Regions from separate parts of the Homo sapiens genome. Here region 2 is linked to region 1. Evidence: fine-mapped expression QTL. Tissue or cell type: whole blood. Region 1 holds a variant in brackets; the other region holds the start of a gene. All regions are shown on one strand. Distances are between the middles of the regions.

Region 1 (2,760 bases):
TGTGGGATATAGTCTCGTGGTGCGCCGTTTTTTACGCCGGTCTGAAAAGCGCAATATTTGGGTGGGAGTGATCCGATTTTCCAGGTGCGTCCGTCACCCCTTTCTTTGACTCGGAAAGGGAACTCCCTGACCCCTTGCGCTTCCCAGGTGAGGCAATGCCTCGCCCTGCTTCGGCTCGCGCACGGTGCGTGCACCCACTGGCCTGCGCCCACTGTCTGGCACTCCCTAGTGAGATGAACCTGGTACCTCAGATGGAAATGCAGAAATCACCCGTCTTCTGCGTCGCTCATGCTGGGAGCTGTAGACCGGAGCTGTTCCTATTCGGCCATCTTGGCTCCTCCTCCCTCATCCCTACTTTAAAATGGTTGTTTCTATCCATTGCTGATATCTTATTTCTCTCCCTGCATTTTATTATTTTTGATAAATTTGCCAATTCTCCCTTTTCTGTTAATTTATCTCCCTGCATTTTATTATTTTTGATAAATTTGCCAATTCTCCTTTTTTTGTTAATTGGAACATGTCCTCAACTTTATTAATTTTTAAAAAGCCAACTATTAATTTGATTTACCAACTCAACTTTTTTTTTTTTTTTTTTGAGACAGAGTCTCTTGCTGTGTTGCCCAGGCTGGAGTGCAGTGAAGTGATCTCTGCTCACTGCAACCTCCAGCTCCCAGGTTCGAGCAATTCTCCTGCCTCAGCCTCCTGAGTAGCTGGGACTGCAGACACACACCACCACGCCTGGCTAATTTTTGTATTTTTGGTAGAGACAGGGTTTCACCATGTTGGGCAGGCTGGTCTTGAGCTCCTGGCCTCAAGTGATCTGCCCACCTCGGCCTCCCAAAGTGCTGGGATTATAGGCATGAGTCATTGTGCCCGGCCTCAACTCAACTTTATAAGCATTTTGTTCATTTATGTTGTTAGTTTTATTATTTTCATTTTACTATTTTCTTTTGGCTTTTCACTTTAGCCTCTTAGCAGATAAAGGCTTTGCTTTTATGGTGTTTTTTTCTTTCTTCCCTAATTTAGAAAAATGAGTGTTTTTCTAAGCACTGCTGTGGCAATACTCCATCAATTTTAATACAGAAATATCATTTCAAAATATTCTGTAGTATAGGGACTTTTTTTCTTTTTTCTTTTCTTTTTTGATTCATTCAAATATTTATTGAGCAGCCAAGGAGACCCAAAGGTGATTAAAACATGGTCAGAGAGGTGAGGCAAATGTGCAAGTAACAGAAAGCAAGGGGCTAGGTTCACAGAATCACAGCTGTCAAAAGAAAGTGCTTTAGGACATGAAGAGTGAGTTCGTTTCCAGCCTGGAAGGAGCATGGCTGGCAAATCAGAAAAGGGGATTCAGATTAAAACAGAAGACTTCAGTCTGGATGGCTGATGATACTCAGCATGGACTATATTTCTCTTTCCTCTGTCCCCATCTTTGGACTTAATTTTGCAGTATTGCCCAGGACTGTTCAATGTGCTTTTTCTGTACTTGCTTGCATTTTAGCTTTAATGTCTTCTATAGAACTAGGTCCTTTTTGGATTTTTAGGAGTTTTTTCCT[G/GT]TTTTTTTTGAAGTATTCATGACCTTTTGATCTTGGTCTTGATAGTTTTGAGTTTTTCCATTTTGGTTTGATTTTGGTGCATTTTTGGCTGGAGCATCTTATATAGATTTCTTCACTGGAGCTTTTTCTTCAATTTCTTCATCATCAAAATTATCATCATCATCATCTTCATCAGCAGCAAGTTTTACTTTTTTTTCTGTGGAAACTTGCTGCTACCTCCAGGGGAAGATTGCCTTCCAGATATATTAAATACCTAAGAGTTTCACATCCCCCTGCTCTTCATCTTCTGACTCTGCCTCTCCCTCCACAGCTGCTAAGTGCTGCCCACTAATATGCATTGGCCTTGATCCACACTTCAACTGTAATCCCACGGCTGATGTTATTTCAAAGCCCCCAAGGGAAACCGTTGACTGTACTGACATTTTCAAAGTTGCCAGTGTTACTTCAATAGGACTGCCTTCATAATTCATTGCCTCTGCTTCAACAATGTGCAATTCATCTTTTACACAGCCCCTAACCTGACCGTGCTTAAAGATAACTGGTGCTCATTTTCATCATTATCCACCCGAAACCGATCATCTTCATCGGCCTTTAGTTCACAACCAAAAGATAGTTCTGGAGCCACAGGGGGCTTGTGTCCATGTCCATTGAATCTTCCTTGGGGTGGTGACATACACTTCGGTGAGAGAGAAGGCAGACGGAGATAAACAACTACCGCTCCAGAGAACAGCTGTGCGGGACAGAATCACACCAGGCACAGAATTATTTTCTTGATGTAGGAAGTATTTAGGCACTTAAAATTTTTTTATGTGATGTAGAGATTTTATATTCTGCATGCATTGAAAAACTCTAGTTCACCGAGATATGATTTATATACAATAAAATTTACCTTTTCTAACCAAAGAGTTTAATGAGGTTTTACAAGTGTGTAAAATTGTGTGGCAACCGGCTGGGCGTGGTGGCTCACGTCTGTAATCCCAGCACTTTGGGAGGCCGAAGCGGGTGGATCACGAGGTTGGGAGATCAAGACCATCCTGGCCAACATGGTGAAACCCCGTCTCTACTAAAAATACAAAAATTAGCCAGGCGTGGTGGTGCGCCCCTGTAATCCCAGGTACTCAGGAGGCTGAGGCAGGAGAATCGCTTGAATCCGGAAGGCAGAGGTTATAGTGAGCTGAGATCATGCCACTGTACTCCAGCCTGG
Region 2 (2,630 bases), 180 kb before region 1:
TGCCTGAATCAGACCCCTACTCTTACTCCCAGACTCCTATCCTTGAAGTCCTTTCTTAAATGTTACCTTCTCTCAAAGACTTAACCTGGACACTCCATTCCAAATTGCAACCCTCAGCCGCTAACACTCCCTCATCACTTCCCTCCCCTTATCTTTTTTCCTTAGCATTTACCACCAAACCCAAAACACAGCTTACTTCTGCTTACTGCCCATTTCCAAGAAGGCCAAAAATTCTGCGTTGTTTCCTGCTGCATCCCCAGCAACTATGCCTGGCACATATTAGACACTTAATAAATATTTGTTGAATCAATCAATGAACCAGATAGAGACTCTTAAAAACGTAAAGCTGTGATTTAAAAAGAAAGAAAGAAAAATATGATGTGGGAAAAAAGATAATCAAAACCGCTACGATTAAGAGATAATGATTCTCTTAAGCCTTTGCCACATCTGAACGCATAATCTGGAAGGAAATTAAAGCCACATGACTTAAATTAAAGCCAAGTGAAAATATTCTGGAGAAACAAAGTAAGCCAGTAACCTATTTCTCAATTTAAAAAAAAACCCGCAACGCAAAATGCCAGCATTTTCTCGGCATTTCTTCTCTAAAACATTCACACCTGCCAAACAGGTCTTGGCAAATAAACATTCTGCTCTTCTGAAAAACTGTGGTTCTCATGTTAGCAAATTTGGGACGAAATCCGTATGCAGAAAAAGCGCCGGGCCGCCCGCAATCCACCCACTCCATGACCCTTTTTTAGGACAAAATCCCTGGGCGCTGGGGCCTGCTGGAGGAGCTTCACGCAGTCTGGAGCTGAAGGGACACAGCGAGCGCCCCGACCCGCGACGCCCCGACTCCGCGAAGGCCTCCCTGGGAGGCTGGGGAAGCGTCGGGGGATCTCTCAGCGCAGCTCTGGGGCCCAGATTTCTGCGCCCGTCGTGCGGTGGCCAGAGAGGGACAGCGCAGCGCGGAGACGCGGAGACGCAGAGACTCCGCAGGGGGAGAGCCCGCGGTGCGTGAAACAAACCTGTTCTCTCCTCAGACCTCAAAGACAGCGGCTCCACCGCGGTACGCGGCCACCGGCTTTGGAGCCTGGACCCCAACTTGCCTCCTCTCGCGGAGAGACAGTCGCCGACGCTCGCTTAGCCGCCGAGACCTCGCCGCCAACTCTCTCACCTCTCGAGACGCCCAGGCCGCTCAGGCTCGAATCTTGCGGAGCAGGGGGCGGGACAATAGCGGCCGCGGCGCCCCACTCGGCAGAACTCCGCCACCAGGCGCGATGCCGGAACTACATGTCCCATGACGCTCTGGGAGGCCGCAGCTTTCCACCGGAAAGAGGGTGGCTGAGGTGGGGGAGGAGCCCAAAAGGCATTGTGGGAGTACAGCTCTTTCCTTTCCGTCTGGCGGCAGCCATCAGGTAGGCTGCGTTGAGGATCTTTGCTCTTCCATCCGCCTTTGATCGTCTTCCTCTTCAGCCATCCAGGTCCGGGGACCCTGCGTCCTCGGAGATAGGTCTCCCTCCTGTGCGGCCAGAGTTTGGTCAGGATGCGGGACAGCAAAGGGGTGGAGAGGCGGCCCCCGGGGCGGGTTGAGCGAAGATGTGATGGCGGCGCGAATTCGAGCTGGGCCCGGATCCTGGAGGAGGCGTGGGGCTGACGAATGGGGCGCCCGGGACAAGGCAGCCTAAAGTGAGGCTGCTGGTTGGGTGGGGTAGATGCATTTTCCTCGAGAGTTAATCCTCGGTGGCCGCAGCAGTACCTTGTCCTGTGATGTCAGCGGCATCTCCTTTCAGGTCCTCCTTGGGGACGCCGCCTGCCGCAGCCACCCGCCCCCTTGGTGCTCAGTTCTGGTTCTGTTAATTCGCCCCACCAAAACGTGCCGAGCACCGCTCTGTGCTGGGGTTGCGGAAGTGACTGAACGCGGCTCCGTGGGCGCAGTGGTGGGGGTTGGGCTAGCTGTCCCCGGCAGTTGGTGCAGAGCCATTTTCATTCCCGGCGGTTTCCTTGTTTTTGTTGGGGAACTAAGATGGACGGATACAGTCGTCTTATTGTACTTAAAGCGGATGATATTTAATACACAGTTTGATTTCACAGGTAAGCCAAGATGGGTGCATACAAGTACATCCAGGAGCTATGGAGAAAGAAGCAGTCTGATGTCATGCGCTTTCTTCTGAGGGTCCGCTGCTGGCAGTACCGCCAGCTCTCTGCTCTCCACAGGGCTCCCCGCCCCACCCGGCCTGATAAAGCGCGCCGACTGGGCTACAAGGCCAAGCAAGGTACGTGATCGACTGCGTGGATGCTTGGATAAAATTATATTCGAGAAAAGTTGGAAACCAGCTGTTAGGAAGACACTGCTGCCTCAGTGTCTTTCTTCGCATAGGGCTTTGGCAGAAAAAAGCTAGCAACACTGGTCAGTTACTGTATGCACTGTTGTCTAAAGTGGCAAGTGTGTCAAAGGTTACAAATCTGAATGAGTTCAGACTAAAGCAAAATAAACAGTGTGCCTCCCTGTGTGAGTAGCCTAAGGTGCATTGAAAAAGACTGGGATGTGTTTTATTTTTTTCTATTAGATAGCATTAACTTACTGTTGAAGTATTTTTGGTGGAGTATTAGTGACAAGCCATTGAGTCTTA

Evidence for each region. PIP is the estimated chance that this variant, and not a neighbour inherited with it, causes the effect.
Region 2: it holds the start of NKIRAS1, and the variant in region 1 is fine-mapped to the expression of NKIRAS1 in whole blood (TOPMed, PIP above 0.99).

What each region holds. Positions count from the first base shown.
Region 1 is chr3:24,095,148-24,097,907 of GRCh38, forward strand. It overlaps the pseudogene NPM1P23. Among named protein-coding and RNA genes, the nearest start is that of LINC00691, 6.7 kb to the right of the region's middle. RefSeq lists an enhancer at 1-99. The variant G/GT (reference allele first, on the strand shown) is at 1,557.
Region 2 is chr3:23,915,759-23,918,388 of GRCh38, forward strand. It overlaps NKIRAS1 (NFKB inhibitor interacting Ras like 1), which reads right to left and starts at 1,232. Exons shown (of 5, transcript NM_020345.4): 1 at 1,026-1,232. RPL15 (ribosomal protein L15) reads left to right here and starts at 1,374. Exons shown (of 4, transcript NM_002948.5): 1 at 1,374-1,415; 2 at 2,092-2,273. The coding sequence starts at 2,102. RefSeq lists enhancers at 836-1,635, 887-2,086, 2,016-2,115.